3 linked regions of the Homo sapiens genome follow. The protein of the gene in region 1 interacts with the protein of each later gene in a biochemical or structural test. Each region holds a gene or a part of one and is shown in the gene's direction. Other genes may lie near its edges. The genes, in order: DEPTOR, RPS6KB1 and TNFAIP3.

The links.
Region 2: of the proteins of DEPTOR (region 1) and RPS6KB1, one has a biochemical effect on the other in vitro, tested with the Homo sapiens proteins (one study listed by BioGRID).
Region 3: the proteins of DEPTOR (region 1) and TNFAIP3 form a complex in vitro, tested with the Homo sapiens proteins (one study listed by BioGRID).

Annotation. Positions count from the first base shown.
Region 1 is NC_000008.11:120,044,697-120,051,504, forward strand, and holds the end of DEPTOR (DEP domain-containing mTOR-interacting protein), read left to right. Parts: intron 1-4,879; coding exon 4,880-5,008; 3' UTR 5,009-6,222; downstream 6,223-6,808. UniProt on the Homo sapiens protein: Negative regulator of the mTORC1 and mTORC2 complexes: inhibits the protein kinase activity of MTOR, thereby inactivating both complexes. DEPTOR inhibits mTORC1 and mTORC2 to induce autophagy.
Region 2 is NC_000017.11:59,889,126-59,896,214, forward strand, and holds the start of RPS6KB1 (ribosomal protein S6 kinase beta-1), read left to right. Parts: upstream 1-3,995; 5' UTR 3,996-4,059; coding exon 4,060-4,200; exon of another isoform or gene 4,201-4,205; intron 4,206-4,670; exon of another isoform or gene 4,671-4,799; intron 4,800-7,089. Other genes in the region: TUBD1 (tubulin delta chain), read right to left, coding at 1,706-1,877. UniProt on the Homo sapiens protein: Serine/threonine-protein kinase that acts downstream of mTOR signaling in response to growth factors and nutrients to promote cell proliferation, cell growth and cell cycle progression.
Region 3 is NC_000006.12:137,870,148-137,877,258, forward strand, and holds part of TNFAIP3 (tumor necrosis factor alpha-induced protein 3), read left to right. Parts: intron 1-685; exon of another isoform or gene 686-765; intron 766-887; exon of another isoform or gene 888-1,035; coding exon of another isoform or gene 1,036-1,080; coding exon 1,081-1,375; intron 1,376-4,697; coding exon 4,698-4,888; intron 4,889-5,540; coding exon 5,541-5,688; intron 5,689-5,848; coding exon 5,849-6,019; intron 6,020-6,928; coding exon 6,929-7,109; intron 7,110-7,111. UniProt on the Homo sapiens protein: Ubiquitin-editing enzyme that contains both ubiquitin ligase and deubiquitinase activities.

The DNA of each region.
Region 1 (6,808 bases):
AAAACCAACAGATGTGTCACCATATGACTTTTAGGACAATTTTTATTAAGTGTGTAAAGTACTTGGATTGGCACTTGAGAAATACTAGGTTTTTCAATATATGACTGAATTGATTGAGAGGTTGCCTGCTATTTTGAAAAGGATCCTGCCTGTGATACTCTGCCTCCTAAACTAAATTGTAAGCTTCGTGAAGGCAAAGATGCTGGTATTTATTAGGTTGGTGCAAAAGTAACTGCAGTTTTTGCAATTAAAAGTTGCAAAACCACAATTGCTTTTGCACCTACCTAATAAATCTTATTTAAGTTCTCCACACACTAGTTGGTACAAGATGTCATGGGCTTTTTCTCCAGAACACCTGTGACAGAGGGTCTTCACCTGATCCTCTATACCCCTAGAGATGTGCTCAGGTGGCAGCACAAGTAAGAAGGTTTGTGTGAAATGAGCAGTTCACGGTGTGCTTGCTCTGACCCCACTCTTGACTGGCTGCTCTGGACAGCATGTGGGAACGCAAGGGAGTGAGACTGTCTTTATGCCTAGGGTAGCCCTGAATCAGCCTTACTTTATGAAAGAGTGAATTAGTCACAAACTTTGGCATTTGAGAAATGTGTGTGTGCATACACTTAGAAAACAAAAACAAGAAATGACCTTTTTCTGTTTTTCTAATTTTTTTATTTTTTATCTTTTATGTTTTTTAGGCAGGATCTCACTTTGTCACTCAGGCTGGAATGCAGTGGCATGATCTTGGTTCACTGCAGCTTCAACCGCCTGGGTTGAAGCGATACTCTTGCCTCAGTCCCCCAAGTAGCTGGGACTACTGGCGTGTGCCACCACACCTGGCTAATTTTTTATTTTTATTTTTGTAGAAACAGAGTTTCGCCATGTTGCCTAGGCTGGACTTGAACTCCTGAGCTCGAGTGATCCGCCTGCCTTGGCCTCCCAAAGTGCTAGGATTGCAGACGTGAGCCACTGCACGTGCCCGGCCTGTTTTTCTAAAATTAAATTCAGTTGAAGTGACCATCACCAAGGTTGATGACAAGTTCAATGTCAGATCATTTTGGTGTCCCTTGCCTATGTCCTTCCCGTTTGAGATCATGTGCACCATAACCCACCACAGCCCCCATCCCAGGGCTTTTAGGCAGTCCAGTAAAATGAACCCTGACCAGTATTAGTGACTGGTGCCACTGGCCCTTGGCCAGACAGCCCTGCTGACTGCCCTTTTCCTACCCCTGAACACCTGGGTAAAGGTCCTGTGCAGAGTTCACCAGGTGCTCATCCTCCCACACATACAGCCTTGACCATCCTAGCTTCTGAGGCCTCCAAGAGCTCTGCAATCAAGAGGTGCACAGGACCCCATCTTGAACCAAACCAGCCTCTCCCTTCTAGACAGAAGGGAGATCCTTGTAGACCAAGAATCTACCCACTGTTAGCATCAGGGCCCTCTTCCCTTCAATGTTTATTGTTTTGTTTTGTTTCATTACTTAACTAAGAGCTTTATGGAGATATAGTTCACATACCATGCAATTTATCCATGTAAACTGTAGAATTCAGTAGTTTTTAATATATTCACAGATTTATGTCACTATTACAACAATTTTAGAGCATTTTTATCACCCCTAAAAGAAACCCCGTACCCATTACCAACCACTTCCATGCCCCACCCCACCACCCCTGCTCCCAACCCTAAGTAATCAATAATCTACTTGCTGTCTCTGTGGATTTGCCTACTCTGGACATTTCATATAAATGGGCTCTTACACTCTATGGTCTATTCTGACTGGCATCTTTTACTTAGCATAATGTTTTCAGGGCTCACCCATGTTGTAGCATGTTGTATGTTCCATTTTATGGCCGAATAATATTCCACTGTATGGATATACTGAATTATATTTCTCCTTTCATCTGTCTTTTTAAATTTTTTAAATATATAGATATATATATTTTGTAGAGACGGAGTCTCACTATGTTGTCCAGGCTGGCTCAAGCAATCCTTCTGCCTCAGCCTCCCAAAGTGTTAGGATTACAGGCATGTGCCACCACGCCCAACCTCCTTTCATCTGTTGACAAACATTGGGGTCCTTCAGTTCTTGAAGCTTCAAGCCACCCTGTCTTCAACGCTTTTCCCTCTGGTGGCCATAGATCAGGGACCACAAACTCACATGCCTGTCAGCCAGGTGTTAGGAAGATAGGAAGCCGTAAGGACTGTGGCAAATGAGTGTCCATGCCATGTGTAGAACAGGCAGGCTCTACTCAGCCATGGCCACATGGCCATCTACACCTGGTATGATCACAGCTTCTGATTGTCCCAGAGAAGCCAGAGTCTGGGTTTTTATTTATTTATTTATTTTGAGACAGAGTCTTGCTTTGTTGCCCAGGCTAGAGTGCAGTGGCAGAATCTCGGCCCACTGCAACCTCTGCCTCCCAGGTTCAAGCAATTCTCCTGCCCCAGGCTCCTGAGTAGCTGGGATTACAGGTGTGCCACTACACCTGGCTAATTTTTGTATTTTTAGTAGAGATGGGGTTTCACCATGTTGGCCAGGCTGGTCTTGAACTTCTGGCCTCAGGTGATCTGCCCGCTTCGGCCTCCCAAAGTGCTGGGATTACAGATGTGAGCCACTGCACCCAGCCCAGAGTCTGGATTTTTATGCAAAGATTTTCCAAATTTTATTTTATTTTTTACTTTTATTTTTTGAAATGGAGTTTCACTGTTGTTGCCCAGGCTGGAGTGCAATGGTGTGATCTCGGCTCACTACAACCTCCACCTCCCGGGTTCAAGTGATTCTTCTGCCTCAGCTTTCCAAGTAGCTGGGATTACAGGCATCCGCCACCACGCCCAGCTAATTTTTTTGTATTTTTAGTAGAGACGGGGTTTCACCATGTTGACCAGGCTGATCCACCCGCCAGGCTGATCCACCTCAAGTGATCCACCTGCCTCGGCCTCCCAAAGTGCTGGGATTACAGGCATGAGCTACTGTGCCTGGCAGATTTTCTAAATTTTAAATGCTGGTCAATTAAAACAAACATGATGTGTGACAGAGGACACACAATTGTGGTTAAGACTAAATGCTGAGGCCAAGTGTGGTGGCTCACACCTATAATCCCAGCACTTTGGGAGGCCAAGGTGGGAGGATCACCGGAGGTCAAGAGTTCAAGACCAGACTGGCCAACATGGCGAACCCCCTCTCTACCAAAAATACAAAAAATTAGCTGGGCATGGTGGCACACACCTGTAATCCCAGCTACTCGGGAGGCTGAGGTGGGAGGATCGCTTGAGCCTGGGAGATGGAGGAGATCGTGCCACAGCACTCCAGCCTGGGCAACAGAGGGAGACTCCATGTCAAAAAAAAAAAAAAGTAAATGGTGAAATGTGATCCCTGAGCGATGCGGAGACATGGCTAATCTCAGGGAGCCTGCGAAGGGTCAGCTGGAGAGGGCACTCACCTGGCAACTCCTGCCCTCTTATTTGGCAGTGCAAAAAGGCTATTCATCTTTTTGGAAAAAGAAACCCCTGTATCTGTGGAAAAGACAAGGGATTTGAAATTTCCAAGTCTAGGGTCTAAAGCTCTGGGTTGGGAAGGAGGTGAAATTCTTCTCATTCTTTGGCTCATGAGTCTGCTGCAGCAGAAAAAAACAAAGCCCAGGCTGATGCCTGCTAAATTGCAAATTACTGCTAAATTGTCTTGCAAATTACTGTGGCCTAGTTCAGGATAGATTGTGACCTGTTTGTGTGACCTTGATTATGACTGTGACCTCCACCATGGTTGAAAACTGCTGATTTTGTATAAGATGTACCCTGAATCCATGAAGACAAATTTGTGGAACCAAGAAAAGAGAAACAGTAATAGTGTGATCTTATGTGGAGAAAACACCCTAGTAGGTTGGGGAGTGCAAAGTATCAAGGTTTATGACAACAGCGAGTGTTTATTGAGTAAATAAGCAGTCTGTGTACTACTGCCCGCTTTCCATTTTGTTTTGCCTGTGACCGTGAAAGAAGTGGGTATTTTTTGAAAGGAAAGAGATTAATAGTACTCAGCATCGGTGTAGTGCTTGGTGTTTGCAAAGAGGTTTCAAATGCACTATCTAGTGTGAGCCTGTGAGAATAGGCGTTTTTACCTGTTGTACAAGTGAGGCATTTATATCGTTGAAACATAGAAGAGGAGAAATTACTTGATTAATGTATTCCACCAAAGGGACCTATAACTTAAATCTGTATCTTTGATTCTAAGTCCCCTCATCTTTTCCACAGTGACAGAGCTTTCCAATACTCTTCCCAGTACTCTCCAATTTTGTTGTATCTAAGTAATAAGTATAGATATTTTTGGACTTAATATCATGTTTAAGTTTACATCGATATTACCCACACAGAAAACAATAAAAGGAAATGATGGTTCCCAAGGTGTTTTGGTATTTTTTACATTCTTTGGTTGAGTCCTCAACACTAATAATTAATAATTGGGAGCAAGCATGCCTGTGAATTACTGCAAGTAGAAACTATATATGTCATTAATTCTTACAACAGTCTTATAAGGTAGGTATTACTCTTATTATTATTATTAATTCTTATTTTAGGGTTGAGGGAAATAAAGCTCAGAAATTTAAATACCTAGCTAGTATTTAAATACTAGCTAAAGCTAGTATGTCTCTGAGTTAGGATTTAAGCCAAATTTTGTAAAACACTAAAACGATTTTTTTTTTTTTAAATTATACTGCCTTCCAGAAAATGTGTAGCTCCTTGGAAATTATTGAATTGGAGTCGTCAGCTGGATACATTTGGATATTTTAAGAATGAAGTTACCTGTTAGGGCTACACACTGTCTTTATTAAAGCTTTGTGCAAAACCAGGCGCTATAATAGATGCTCTTTCTTTGCATCTTTCCTTTAGGTCTGTCAGTTTGTCGTCTCTGTCAACGGGCTCAATGTCCTGCATGTAGACTACCGGACCGTGAGCAATCTGATTCTGACGGGCCCACGGACGATTGTCATGGAAGTCATGGAGGAGTTAGAGTGCTGAGCTCCTGGGCCTCCCAGCCCTCCAGTGGCCTGTGGGTGAGGGAAGCCAGAATGACACAAAGCAATGCAAAGACAAGATTGCCATGCAAATGGATGGTTTTGGACATACGAGTCTTCTCCGCACATACATGTCTAAAGTTGAGTTTTATACACTGAATGTGGAAGAACCGGGTATCATATCTTTTTTAAAAAATGTCAGTGTAGAAAACATTTGGGAAACCATTTTCCTACATGATAGAACTGCCTTACTAGATTTCTATTTGTAGCTCTCATTCATTGTTTTTTATCTTAGTTTGCAGAAAGGTGTTGAAATGCTTCTCTAGCCCAAACAGCGACATGCTAAAGTCCCCTTCTTCAGAGTCAATAGAGTAGTTGTTAAAGGTTTTAAATTGTACTTTCTCCAAAATTAGCATGCAGCTATTTAATAGGGAATCTAGATTTCACCAAGATTCAAATCAAAGCAACATTTAAAGGAATAAGACCTGTTCACTAGCATTTTCAAGGGGGTTCTAAAGCATTCAAGTGCTTAAAAGCCATAAAAAATGACTTCTTAATTCCTGCCTTTAGTGTCAACTTTTAAGTTAATACAGGTTTCAATTGTGGCATTAGGAAAAAAAAAAACCTTGTGATGCTATGGTTGGGGGTAGTTAGGGAGAGACTACATGAAATTGTGTGCCCCTATTTTCTTTCTGATCCTAAATCATTTTGTTTTATAAATCAGCTATAGCATCTTTCTAGAATTAATCCTGAATATGTTGAATGTTAAAATAGAGAAGTTTGTATATACACATAATTAAAAATCAACCCTTCTGGCAAGATTTCACTTTGAAGGTGTCTGTTTTTAAGGGAAGGCTAAAACTTTGCTGATATGTGATAAAACTTGAACTCTAAATTGCCTCCTTAGCCTGAATTTTTACTAGCTTTCTAGTGTAACATATTCTAAGGACATGACATGCTGCTTATTTGGGGGGATTATTTTTCACCAAAATGATCATCTTGTGTTGTAACTTTTCAGCTCACTTGTATATACGCACGTTTTCATTTTTGGTCTAGAAAATAGTGCATTTTGGGGCTCAGCGTGCAGAGGAAATTCCTCAAAGTGCCAAATTAGGCAGTCAGGAAATACTAAATTCTTCATTCCAAATAATGGATCTGAATGATGACGTTAATTTTTTATCATGCATTAACAAAATAAAATATGAGAATTGTACCACAGCCATTTCTTTTCATTAGGTTATCGTAATGTATAGGTACTGGTGGAATGGACCTACCGTGCTAAATATGTTATAGACATATATATATATATATATATATATATATATATTTCTGGTAATCCAACTTTTCTGATTTGTAGCTTTAGTCAGAGAATAGGATTTTGGAGTGACAGAGAATGTCTAACAGTAATACTGTTGATATACATTTGAGAAATACTATCACCTCTGTGTGGGTGTGCATTTGTACTGTATGGCAGGCTCTGTGCATTTAATATATATGATATCCTTTAACCCTCAATGCAACCTTGCAAGGTAGATATTAACGTCCACATTTTTCAGATGTGGAAACTAAGCCTGAGCAAGTTTTAAAATGGTCTCTAAATTCACACGGCTGCAGGAACTACTAGGTGAAATAGGCTGAATGTAAACACAGGTTTAACGCTAAATCCCATGTTACTCCCCTCAACTTTTCCCCATTTAAGGACCTTATATTGAGGGTTTATTCTGAGCCAGGCTGTATGCTAAGACTTTACGCCATTTGTCCTTATTTACCTGTGAAGTCAATACGGTCATTATCTCCATTTTAC
Region 2 (7,089 bases), on another chromosome or scaffold:
GCCTCACCCTCCCGAATAACTGGGATTACAGGTATGTGCCACCATGTCCGGCTAATTTTTGTATTTTTAGTCGAGACGGGGTTTTACCCTGTTGGCCAGGCTGGTCTCTAACTCCTGACCTCAAGTGATCTGCCTGCCTTGGCCTCCCAAAGTGCTGGGATTATAGGCGTGAGCCACTGCGCCCTGCTGGAAAGAGTTTTTATACGTTACTGTTATCAAACGCAGTAGAGGAGTAAAGTGAATTAAGAAAAGAAAGAGAGGCTGGGCACAGTGGCTCACGCCTGTAATCCCAGCACTTTGGGAAGCTGAGGTGGGCAGATCATTTGAGGTCAGGAGTTCGAGACCAGCCTGACCAACATGGTAAAACCCCATCTCTACTAAAAATACAAAAAAATTAGTTGGGCGTGGTGGCGCATGCCTGTAGTCCCAGCTACTCATGAGGCTGAGGCAGGAGAATTGCTTCAACCTGGTAGTCGGAGGTTGCAGTGAGCCAAGATCGCACCACTGCACTCCAGTCTGGGTGACAGAGCTAGACTCTGTCTCAAAAAAAAAAAAAAAAAAAGAAAAAGAAAAAGAAAGAGAGCCTGTAATCCCATCACTTTGGGAGGCCAAGGCAGGCGGATCACTTGAGATCAGGCATTCGAGACCAGCCTGGCCAACATGGCAAAACCCTGTCTCTACTAAAAATACAAAAATTAGCCAGACATGGTCGTGGGCACCTGTAATTCCAGCTACTTGGGAGGCTGAGGCAGGAGAATTGCTTGAACACGGGAGGTGGAGGTTACAGTGAGCCAAGATCACATCACTGCACTTCAGCCCGGGTGACAGAGCGAGACTCTCTCAAAAAAAAAAAAAAAAAAAAGAGAGACAGAGAAAAGAAAGAGCCAGGCATGGTGGCATGCACCTGCAGTCCCAGCTACTCAGGAGACCTGTGAATAGCCACCGCACTCCAGCTTGGGCAACATAGTGTAGTAAGAACCTGTCTCTACAAGAAAAAGAAAAAAAGAAAAGAAAAACAGTAGTTGGATCTGGTGATTCGGAGGTCACTGGAAACTTTTCTTAGAGCAGCTTCAATGATGCTATGTGGGGCAGAAGCAGGATCATAGGTGGTTAAGCAGGGTCCTTTTATTTTTTTTGGAGATGGAGTCTCGCTCTGTCACCAGGCTGGAGGGCAGTGGTGCGGTCTCGGCTCACTGCAACCTCTGCCTCCTGGGTTCAAGTGATTCTCCTGCCTCAGCCTCCCGAGTAGCTGGGATTACAGGCACATGCCACCACGCCCAGCTAATTTTTGTATTTTTAGTAGAGATGGGGTTTCACCATGTTGGTCAGGCTGGTCTTGAACTCCTGACCTTGTGATCCACTCGCCTCGGCCTCTCAAAGTGCTGGGATTACAGGCGTGAGCCACCACGCCCAGCCAGCAGGGTCCTCTTTTGAGAATCTTAGATGAAAGGCAAAGAGATAAGAAGAAGAAAGCCAGTCAATAGATGAGTTTTGTTTGGTTGGTTTTAAATTGGTGAGATCTGAGCATGCAGAAGGGAAAATGCCACTGGAAAAGCAAAGATTATTAACATAGAAATGAAAAGCAAAAACAAAGTAATTCCCTAGTGAGATGGGAAGGAATGGGGTTTAAAAACCATGTGGAAGGCCTGGCTTTGAAGGGGTTGGTTAGATCAGAGTAAAGGAGAGGACTGTGGGCCACACCTACCTCCATTCTCCTCCTCACTGAAGAATCTTTCTTTGCAAGATGCTTGATATGCCTCATTCTCTCTCATAGAGCAGAGTCCCTGGGAACTGTGTGAGTCACTAAGCAAAGCATCAAAAACTTCAAAACCAATCTGATTGCCACACTGACCAAGTTGCACTGTTACAATTGACATGCTGAGCCACAAACTAGGTGTATTACCTCTAAAAACAACCTGTAATCGAAAAAAATACGCTTTGAGAACCACTACATTACTAATAAGAACAAATAAAATGCCATGTATGTTAATTATACATCAATAAAAAGTCTTTTTTCCCCCCTGAGACGGAGTCTTGTTCTGTCACCCAGGCTAGAGTGCAGTGGCATGTTCTCGGCTTAATGCAACCTCCGCCTCCCAGGTTCAAGCGATTCTCCTGCCTCAGCCTCCCGAGTAGCTGGGATTACAGGCACGTGCCACCACGCCTGGCTAATTTTTGTATTCTTAGTAGAGATGGGGTTTCACCATGTTGGCCAGGTTGGTCTTGAACTCTTGACCTCGTGATCCACCTCCACCTACCTCAGCCTCCCAAAGTGCTGGGATTACAGGCTTGAGCCACCACGCCCGGCCCAAAAAGTCATTTTAAAATGCCACATACGTATATAATATTGGAGATAGAACAGCTGTGTTGTCTAAGGAGCTAGTCATTCAAGGAAGTTCTCATACTCTCTACATGGTTTTGGGATTTGTGATTTACTGTACCTGAATCCATTCATACACAGCTCAATAGTTTCCAAAATCTGATTTGTAATCACTTTTTTCCTAAACATATGTTTAAAACAAAACATTCTCCTCAGTTGAGGAGTGATAAAAGAAAAAAAGAGGCTGGGTGCGTGGCTCACACCTGTAATCCCAGCATTTTGGGAGGCTGAGTTGGGAGAATCACGTGAGCCTGGCTGTTCCAGACCTGGTCAACATGGCAAAACCCTGTTTGTACAAAAAATACAACCATTAGCTTGGCGTGGTGGTGTGCGCCTGCAGTCCCAGCTACTCGGGAGGCTGAGGTGGGAGGATCCCCTGAGCCTGGGAGGTCCAGGCTGCAGTGAGCCAAGATCTTGCCACCGCACTCCAGCCTGGGTGACAAAGTGACATCCTCCTGTCTCCAGAAAAAAAAAAAATTAAAATTAAAAAAATAAAAACAAGACAAAACAAATGCTGATTGAAGAAATTAGTAGTACCACCCTTCACACCACATGAACATGTAGAACACAGAAGTGTGCTCAACATTGTACATTCAATTAACATTAATTTTCTCTCTTCTAAATAATAGCTTACGCTTTCTCCACTAGTCTAGCCTGGTAACTTTAGTAAGACCTGTAAGAAAGATTTTGTGTTTAGCTCAGGTAGGACAGCAAGAAAGATGCAGCTTGGAGAAAGAAAACCAGATGAAATATTAACCGGGCGCAATGGCTCATGCCTGTAATCCCAGTACTTTGGGAGGCCGAGGCGGGAGGATCACCTGAGCCCAGGGATTCCAGACCAGCCTGGGCAACACAGCGAGACCCTGTCTCCATTTGAAAAAGAAAGAAAGCAAAAGAAACATTAGAGCAGTTCCTCATTATTTTTACCTAGGAAAAGACAAGTTTTGATAAAGACTTCACATCAGGTCTATGCAGCACTGGAAATGAGCCGTGGGTTGTGAGACAGACTCTGTGCTTAAAATGTCAAACCGGCAAAGTAGGTTTATTATTATCCTCATTTTACAGATAAGGAAACTGAGGCTCTGAAAGGTTATTGACTTTTCCAAGGCCACAGAACTAGTAAAGAGCAAAGCCAAAAGGTCCCCCGTTCCCCACGGGCCCCAGGAGTTCTCCACACGTAACCCGACTCACCGCCAGACGCCGACCAGCGCTTCTGTCCGGTTCAAACTTCGGACCAACCTACTCACCATGCGCATGCTCACTTTCAAAACGAAAAACTTACTGAGAACAAATGCGCATGTTCCATAAACGGAGAGTTTTGTTGTGTATATATTTTTTCCTATTCAGAAAGATTAATTACGCATGTTCAATTTCAATTTACGAACTTCAGATATGGTACGCATGCTCACTGTCCACCGAACGCTCCAGCTGACAATGCGCATGCTCTAGTCCTCCAAGCGCGACTTCGGCTGGTGTTTTGCGCATGTTTCTGCCAGCGCCTGGATCCTGCCGATAGTTCTGCGCATGTCCACTGCCCACTGTTTGGCTTCACGGAACCCTGTACGCATGCTCCTACGCTGAACTTTAGGAGCCAGTCTAAGGCCTAGGCGCAGACGCACTGAGCCTAAGCAGCCGGTGATGGCGGCAGCGGCTGTGGTGGCTGCGGCGGGTCCGGGCCCATGAGGCGACGAAGGAGGCGGGACGGCTTTTACCCAGCCCCGGACTTCCGAGACAGGGAAGCTGAGGACATGGCAGGAGTGTTTGACATAGACCTGGACCAGCCAGAGGACGCGGGCTCTGAGGATGAGCTGGAGGAGGGGGTGAGGCCCGGGGTCCCCGGGGGCCCGAGGTGACAGGGCCGGGGCGGCGGCGCGGGCTCAGGAAGCGCGGTGTGTCCTAGAGCGTGGAGACCCAGGGGGGCTCCTGAGGAGCTGAGGGTCGCGCGGCCTGAGACAGGGGAGCGGGCGGGGCGGTCATGGCCCTAGGTGTGAGGCCTCTGCGGGGCTCGCAGGTGCAGGTCGCACCCTTAGCCCCAGGTCAGCGCAGCCCCGAGCGATCTGAAGAGGGAAAGAGAACGGGCGCGTGGTCGATTCCTCGAGCTGTTGGACTTGAGTGTGGCGGGGAGCGGGTGGCGTGAGCGTGTGTTGGGGAGACGGGGGCTGCTCTTGCTGGGTGTCCCGTAAGTGCAGGCGAAGTGTGGAGGGTTTCCCTTCGAGTCTAGAATTTCAAGTATTGAATCTTCAGACCTCCCACAACCACCTCTCTTCTCGGCCTGTCGCTTCTCTCCTAGGAAGCGCTCAGCTGTTAGAAGTGACAGCTGAAAACTTCTGTCGGGAGTAGCACTGCCGCTGCTGTTACAGCCACCAGGAGTTTTATTTCGGGAGCAAGGGGGCTCTGCTGCATCTTCCAATCTTCCAGGGTTTGTTTGTTTGCTTTTTTTTTTTTACCCCCTTCCGTGTGACTTTTTAAAATAAGCATTTATAAGGACACACGGCACTTGTAACCTTTCCCCAAGTTGAAGATGTCTGTATTTTTTTCAGAATAATTAATGTAATTTTGAGGTGGAAAAAAAAACCAAAAACCAGTTGACAGCCTTGATTTAGCTTGCCAGAAATAAGTTGCCTGAACAGAGACTTGTGAATGGTGGTATGAGGGCTTTCCTTGCTGTAATTTAGGGTGCTAAATTTAGAATTGTATTTCCTAATGCATAGCTTGGTTTCACCCTGCTGGCTTAGTGGTTTGTTAATCTTTATGGAATAACTTTTTTTTTCCCTAGATAAATTTATCAAAAAATGACAAATTGCACCTGAAGTTCAAAAATGTTGTCATACTAAATCACTGATCCTGGACCAAATGATCATCAGTTGATAACCTCTTGGTAGTTTAGCATCTAAATTCCAATGTCTAGTTGAATACATGGGTTAATGACGTCAGATGTTTGCTCTAATTACACAGGGGCTTCCTTTCCCTTGCCTCACCCTCAGTTTTTCTCCTCTGGCACCTGCCCTACTGTTGACAAAAGATTGAGATGATGTATATAAAGAATTTTGAACACTTTAAGAAACTAAGTGGCCTAAAATAATACTGTTCTTCTTGTTTGTTTCTTTTGTTTTGTTTTGAGTTGGGTCTCACTCTATCACCCAGACTGGAGTGCAATGGTGCGATCTCAGCTCACTGCAATCTCAGCCTCCTGGGTTTAAGCGATTGTCATGGCTCAGCCTCCCAAGTAGCTAGGATTACAGGCATGCGCCACCACATCTGGCTAATTTTTGTATTTTTAGTAGAGACAGGGTTTCACCATATTGGCCAGGCTGTTCTCGGACTCCTGACCTCAAATGATCCACCAGCCTCGGCCTCCCAAAATGCTGGGATTATAGGCATAAACCACCATACCTGACCAATACTGTTCTTTTCATAATCAAATAAGACTAAATCAAAATCACACGGTTTAGAAAGTGGGTATTGAGTTGTGTGCTTTTTCTTTTCTTTTCTTTTCTTTTCTTTCTTTCTGGTTTTTTTGTTTTGTTTTGTTTTTGAGACAGTCTTGCTCTGTCACCCAGGCTGGAATGCAGTGGCGTGATCTCAGCTCACTGCAACCTCTGCCTCCTGGGTTCAAGCGATTCTCCTGCCTCAGCCTCCTGAGTAGCTGGGACTACAGGCGCGTGCCACCACACCTGGCTAATTTTTTGTATTTTTAGTAGAGATGGAGTTTCACTGTGTTAGCCAGGATGGTCACGATCTCTTGACCTCGTAATCTGCCCGCCTCGGCCTCCCAAAGTGCTAGGATTACAGGTGTGAGCCACTGCGCCTGGCTTTTTTTTTTTTTTTTTTTTTGAGACAGGGTCTTCCTCTGTCACCCAGGCTGGAGTGCAGTGGTGCGATCTCGGCTCACTGCAGCCTCTGCCTCCCAGGTTCAAGCGATTCTCCTACCTCAGCCTCCCAAGTAGCTGGGATTACAGGGGCGCGCCACATCACCTGGCTACTTTTTTTGTATTTTAGTAGAGATGGGGTTTCACCATGTGGCCCAGGCTGGTCTTGAACATCTGACCTCAGGTGATCACCTGCCTCAGTCTCCCAAAGTGCTGGGATTACAGGTGTGAGCCACCCCACCAGGCTTTTTACTTTATTTTATTTTAATTTTTTTTGAGATGGAGTCTCACTGTGTAGCCCAAGCTGGAATGCAGTGGCCTGATCTCGGCTCACTGCAGCCTCCGCCTCCTGAGCTCAAGCGATTCTCGTGCCTCAGCCTTCCGAGTAGCTGGGACTACAGGCGCGCACCACCATGCCTGGCTAATTGTTTGTATTTTAGTAGAGATGGGGTTTCACCATGTTGCCCAGGGTGGGCCTGAACTCCTGAGCTCCAGCAATCTGCCAGCCTTGGCCTCTCAAAGTGCTGGGATTACAGGCGTGAGCCACTGCATCCGGTTGGTGTGTGCTTTTTCAATGATGTTTTCATGCAGAATTCCAATTAGCCTCTTAATCGAACATAATGGTACACTAGTTACAATTGGAAACAAATATGAGATTACTTTCATTATTTATACCATATACCATACTCTTTATCAGTTATGTTGGTTCTCTATGACAGTGGCTTTGGAGCAGGGCAGGGGAGAAAACTGGATAGGAAGGTGCTTTATATCTTCATTAGTTGAACTGATAGAATTTCCAGACTGGGTTTATTTTATTTTATTTTTTTTTCTTTTCTGAGA
Region 3 (7,111 bases), on another chromosome or scaffold:
AAGCCAGGCAGACTTGCCTCTGTGTTGGTACCTGGAGGGTGATGATAAAATTTCATTGGCAGTTGAGTTAAAATGATTGAGCTCCAATATCTGTTCTTAGAAGTATAGAATTTATTGTTCTATTATTATTTTGCGGTTTTTCATTTTTTGTTTTCGTAGAGACCTAGGTCTCACCGTGTTGCCCAGGCTAGTCTCAAACTCCTGAGCTTAAGTGATCCTCCTCCCTCGACCTCCCAAAGTGCCAGGATTAAAGGCATGAGCCACCATGCCTAGCCTATTGTTAGTCTGTTTCTTATTCTGATATGAAGTCCGGTGCGGAGGTTCTGAAGGAATGCTGACTGCTCTTAAAATTGCAAAGCATCTTGCTGGAAATGGACTTTTTTATTGATTAGAAAACATTCGGTTTTAACTCTTTATAAACATCAGAATAAACTTCATGATTAAACACTTTATAAATACTTCTCTTTGGGGCTAAAGAGGAAACACCAACCAGCAGCCTAAGTGACAGCATAAAATTGCAAGATTTTTCATAAAGTATTTTACTGTCCTTCCAGCATAGGGAGGGAGTGATAACTCAAGAGTTTGCCCAAGAGCAGGAGTGCTTGGTGGTGGTCTGAGGGGAGGAGCTACAGACTTGTCAGGGCTACTTTGAGCCCTTAACTGGCATCCAGTACTCCCCAAATCCAGTGCTGTTCAGGGTGGCCTCAGAATGAAACGGGAGCTTAAGTTGGTTTTGAGGAGCAGTACCTGTTGCTGACAGACAGGGTTGGCTCCCTGACAAACATTACTGAAAACACGGGTTATTCCCCTCCTCCTCAGTACCCACTCTCTGCCTTCCTTCTCTTGTTTAGGCTAATCTTTTAAAGTGATGTAACTTAAAACAGTCCAGTGTGAGTTAATCTCTGGGGCCAGCTAGTATCCCGGGAGTAGAGGTGCTAAGATCTTTTGCCTACAGATCAGGGTAATGACAAGATCAAACACTGGGGTTTCCTGCAGGCAGCTATAGAGGAGTCGTATTAAAGTCAGGCTAATAGAATGGCTTTTTTTTTTTCCTTTCCTTTTCAGGTGTTGGAGAGCACAATGGCTGAACAAGTCCTTCCTCAGGCTTTGTATTTGAGCAATATGCGGAAAGCTGTGAAGATACGGGAGAGAACTCCAGAAGACATTTTTAAACCTACTAATGGGATCATTCATCATTTTAAAACCATGCACCGATACACACTGGAAATGTTCAGAACTTGCCAGTTTTGTCCTCAGTTTCGGGAGATCATCCACAAAGCCCTCATCGACAGAAACATCCAGGCCACCCTGGAAAGCCAGAAGAAACTCAACTGGTGTCGAGAAGTCCGGAAGCTTGTGGCGCTGAAAACGAACGGTAAGACTTGTTCTGTTGTGTTTCTTTTGCCTGGGTGATAGCTCCCGCCTGCTGGATCCCCATTCATGAAGCTTTAATAGGACAAGCCCAAACTCAAATCAATCTTGAGATTTAGTATTGAGACCTTTATATAGAATCTCTATTCGGGGTATGTGATAATAGCAGACTTGTTTTGTGAATCTATTTATTAAGGATATTTTCTGATTGTGTATATTGCAGAGCACATTGAGGCTTGGAGAATGCATTTGTAAACACCATACCTCCATTAGGTGATTTCTTTCTAATTCTTGCAAATGTCTAATCATCTGTAAAATACCCTTCTCTGGCCCGTAATGGAAATGTTAAAAGCCTTTAAGTTCAAAAGGAAAGAATGGTGTGAAAACTGGTAGTACATTTGTTTCCCACTGTCATTAGAAAATGCTTGTGATGTTCTTACACTTCTTGAATTGGTAGCATTTTATGGGTTAACCAGTGAATGGCTGTTGAAGACATGAAGAACTTCTTTTGTCTCCTCCTCCTCTCTGACCTAGGTTCTATTGCCTATGCCCTGCAAGGTGAAATAGACAGATAGCTGAGATTTTTAGCATGAATTTTAGACTTCACCTTCATTATTTTTAGGGGTTCTTAGTCACTGAATTCCTTCCTGTCTGTGCTGTTCTGCCAATGGCCTTTACCACTAGTAGCTATTTCCTATTCCAAGCTTTACTGTTTTGTTTTTTAATCATTTCCCTTGGGTAAGAATATGTGCATCAACAGGAATGTCAGAGCATACTGTTTCATGCAGGCACAAAATTCTGCTCTATGGATGTGCATAATTATGACAATAAGGAAGTTGACTGTACAAGCTCAATTAAATGCTCATAGTCTACATAAGAGCAGGAATCTCAGGTCCTTATATCTGTGACAGTCCCAAACCATCCTAATAGAAATAATATGTCCAAGGGCAGAAAATCCTTGTTGACAAGGATTACGATAAGAACACTAACTTAATTAACTTCATTCAAAAGCCAAGTACATTAACTTTGGCTTTTTTTGACTTGGGTAACTTAGAGTGATTGGTGGACATGGGTTTTTAAATTTTGATTCTGGGGGCTCTTGTACATTACCCCAACGTCTTGCCTAGATTTATGAAACACTGATTCTTAGAAACATAGATAGAAAGAAAACTGGGGATAGCTACTATCTGCATTGTTCTTGGCATTAAATTAAGTGATACTTAGAGGTAGGTAATTATGTGAAGTCATCATCACGGGGTTTATGTGCCTGACAATTTGTGGTTTTAATCATCTCCCATTTGTTACCAAAAAGAGATGGAGTCAACTTTGGGGGAGTTGGAAACAAAGATTCTGCTGAATTAAAAATGTGGTAGAAAGAGGAACACCTTATTAAGAGAATTAACTGACTTTTAGCTTTATTTCCTTAAGAAAGGAAATGCTCTATTTCCACTAGAAAAAAAAAAGGAATATAAATAGGAAACACTTATTTTGTAAACATGTCATTTAAATCAACAAGGAGCCACACTACAAATAAAACTACAAAAGCAGGTGCATTTTGGTAACATTTTCTGGGAAATCATTTTTAGACTCAGAGTCCTTTTGTTTCTTCACTTTCAAGAAAACTCCTTAAGATTCTAAAAAAGGAAGAAAAGATATTTAGGGAGGGAGGAAAACAAATGACTTTTTCTTTGATTTTAATTAGCACCTTTTAAAAAAAAATTAATCCTTCCCCTGATAGGAGGGTTCTTCAAAGGCAATATCTGTTTGGGGAGGGGGTGATTCACAAGTTTGCATTTGAGGATATGAGACTGCGGTGAATGAGGAAGGGAGTAGGTGGCATAAAATTGAAACTTCATGTGAAAAATTCCAGCGTCTATTGGCTGCAGCGATTTCACTTGTATAATGAGTAGCCCTATTCCAGCTCACCCTGACCACACCCACTTGGAAAGTCCAGGGTGCACTTCGCAGTTTAAATGTCTACACACCAGAACAAAAAGTACAATAGCTGTTGCTCAATTGCTAGTCAAATAACTTAGCACTGGGGAATTCCAGATGTTACTTAGGGAATTTTATACTGGTGCATCTCAATAAAGAACTGAAAGTAAGCACAAGAAGAAAAAAAGCCTTATCTTTGCTCTAGATTTTGCAAAGGGGAAATTTCAACAGAACGCAATCATTGCTACACGTCTGCCAAGACACAAGGCTTGGGCGATCTTTTTTGTTCATTTGTTTGAATACTTAGCTAGTTTTTCTAAATGTATACATTGAAGGAATACTGGCTGTGGAAGTATATTTGAGGGTTTTTTGGTTTCTTTACAGTTTGACTGTAATTACAATTTGATAAAATTTCAAATAGCTCTATTGCCCTACTTATAGAGTAATGTAAGAAACAATGTAACTTTTCATTATAAAAATTATTTTGCACTTGCCAAAGGAGATTAAGGAGTTAACTTTTTTTGTTTTAAACATTCCCCCAAAATATTTATCGTTTGGGGGTTGAAAAAAATGCAGCCCATTGAATTGTGAGTTTTAAACTGGAAAGGTCACAGATTAATGGCATACAATTAAACCTGTTTTTTTGTTTGTTTTTCTTCTCAAAATGTTAGCCCTAAACACTGAATTATTTTCAAATTTAGACACCCAGGTGCTTTTTAACTTTTGTACTTTACAGTTACTAACAAGCAGGTTTGCATAAGGCATTTTTGAGAGCCGGACTAGCAGGCCATAGGTAATTCCGTGTTGTCAATACGACTTTCCACACCAGGAGAGGAAACTCCCAGGGCCCAAAGGCTAAAGTGGAATGGTCAAGTCATTTGCCATTGAGTCATAGCCAGACCATCCCTATCTAGCAAGCCATGCCTGCTTCCTGGTTTGTGCATGTTGCCCTGTGTGCTCCTCCTTAGAACTAGAGAGCAGCAATGCCAGTGCCTTCACCAGCAAATCAAGGGATGGTAGGAAGGGATAGGGCTTTAGAGATCATCACTTACTGCCCTCATTTCACAAGAGGAAAAATGCCCAGTGAACTTAAGGAATTTCCTCCAGGTCACCTAAACTAGTTAGGAGCAGACTTAAGCTAGAACCAAGGTCCCCTGGCTCCTTTGCAGTTGGTGTCATTCATTAAAAAGAAGAATAAAAAGAACTCTTTTTTTCTTAAAGCTGTCATCATCTTGTGAAATATCAGTTTGCCCTTGACTAGGAAATTACATCAAATTAAACCATTCAGTCCCCTAGAATAGCAGTAGGGCTGGTTTATTCTGAAAACCTTTGCTGGGTCTTACATGCAGATAACTTGACTTTCCTTCTCTTCTCCTCCTTTCTGTCCTCAGGTGACGGCAATTGCCTCATGCATGCCACTTCTCAGTACATGTGGGGCGTTCAGGACACAGACTTGGTACTGAGGAAGGCGCTGTTCAGCACGCTCAAGGAAACAGACACACGCAACTTTAAATTCCGCTGGCAACTGGAGTCTCTCAAATCTCAGGAATTTGTTGAAACGGGGCTTTGCTATGATACTCGGGTAGGTTTTTCCCCCTAATTATCTACTAACAGAGCTCCATGGTGGGCATAGGGTACCCCTGGGCGAGTCCCTGCCCTCTGGTAGCATCTGATGGACTAGGTCACATGAATTTGGCTAAGCGAAGCATACTCAATGGAAAACACCAGAAACCTCCAGTGGGACTCACCCAAGGCTTTTGCCCTGCTTTTGGTTAGCAGATTCCCAGCTGTGGATCCGTTCCTGTAGCAGCGAGTCTTTTGATCATGGCCTTTTCCACTGGTGTTTTGTTGTTTTTCAGTTTGATTGCCCTTAGCTTTGCTGAGCCAGCCAGTAAGATTAAGACACGTGCCTCACCATCCTCAGTCACAAGTTTGGAATTTTTGTGAACATTTGGATAAGGGGCTGCAATATGATACCTCATCAGGGATTTTTTTTTAAAGCAGGTGCTGTCCCCGTCCTCCCCAACTTTTGAGTTTGCCTTGTAGTGGAAAAAAGTAAAGGAAGAAAACCGAAATGGGGAAAAAAGGGTGATCATTTGAATGATGGTTTCATGAAAGGGGAAAAAATAAGCTGAGTTATATAAATGAATAATTGTAGAGTGATGTCAGAATGACTTTTTAGTACAGGGAGTACAGGATACATTCAAGCTTTTTTTTCACCCCGCTCCCCTTAGAACTGGAATGATGAATGGGACAATCTTATCAAAATGGCTTCCACAGACACACCCATGGCCCGAAGTGGACTTCAGTACAACTCACTGGAAGAAATACACATATTTGTCCTTTGCAACATCCTCAGAAGGCCAATCATTGTCATTTCAGGTGAGATGCCTGCAGATCACGGATCTGTACTTAAATGCTTTCAGCCTTATGCCTTGGCTCCTGGAGAAAACCACACTGCCAAAGTTCAGGTAACAGAGTTCAATGGAATTTGATGAAAGTCACCTAAGGGCCTCATTTTCCTTTCTCTTTCTTTGAACAGACAAAATGCTAAGAAGTTTGGAATCAGGTTCCAATTTCGCCCCTTTGAAAGTGGGTGGAATTTACTTGCCTCTCCACTGGCCTGCCCAGGAATGCTACAGATACCCCATTGTTCTCGGCTATGACAGCCATCATTTTGTACCCTTGGTGACCCTGAAGGACAGTGGGCCTGGTGAGAAAACTGCATTAATTCACATCTATAACTAGACACTGAAACATCAGGGTTTTCCTTTTTGCTTCTTATTAAAACAGTCTTATTTAAGTATATTATTTTTATTTAAATATATTGTTCTGTGACTTGCTTGGTTAGTAAGAGTAATGCAGTAGCAGTAATCATAATACCCTCATATCTTTTTGAATATGACTTGGAAAGTACTTTCATACATGATAAATTAAGGCGCACAGTGCTCTTAATACAGTGCCTGGTATGGAGCAAGTAAACGCCTGTCAGGTTAGTTTTTTTCTTTTTGAGACAGGGTTTCCCTCCATTGTCCAGGCTGGAGTGCAGTGGCACAATCATGGCTCATTGCAGCCTCCACCCCCTGGGCTCAAGCAGTCTCTCGCTTTGGCCTCTCAAATTTACAGGCACGAGCCACCATGCCTGGCCTGTTAGCTGTTATTTTAATAGCCTCATGTGGAATAAGCACTGTGCTTTGGAAATATTATTTTACTGCATTTTTATCCTTTTAGCACTCTTGTGAGATGTAGGCCTTGGTAGCCTTATTTTACATATTAGACAGTTAAAGCTCAGAGAGGTCAACTAACCTGCCTAATGCCACACAGCTTGATAGTGACAAAGCCAGGATTCAAACTCAGGTCAGTCTGATTCTAAAGCCTGGGACTTTAACCAATAAGATCCACCACCTCCAGGCTGGTTAATGTTATGTGAGTTTCCTGGAAACAGTGCATTTTTATATTAGATTGTAGCACATTTTGTTTTCCCATTTGGGTTTAACTGTGGCTAAGAATACTTTTCTATTCTGTAAGTTATATCTTTTATACATTTTCAAAATGAGATCTACTTACCTATGGCCTTGTTTAGTAGAATACTGTTTTACTTATGTATTATTTTTTTCCTTAGAAATCCGAGCTGTTCCACTTGTTAACAGAGACCGGGGAAGATTTGAAGACTTAAAAGTTCACTTTTTGACAGATCCTGAAAATGAGATGAAGGAGAAGCTCTTAAAAGAGTACTTAATGGTGATAGAAATCCCCGTCCAAGGCTGGGACCATGGCACAACTCATCTCATCAATGCCGCAAAGT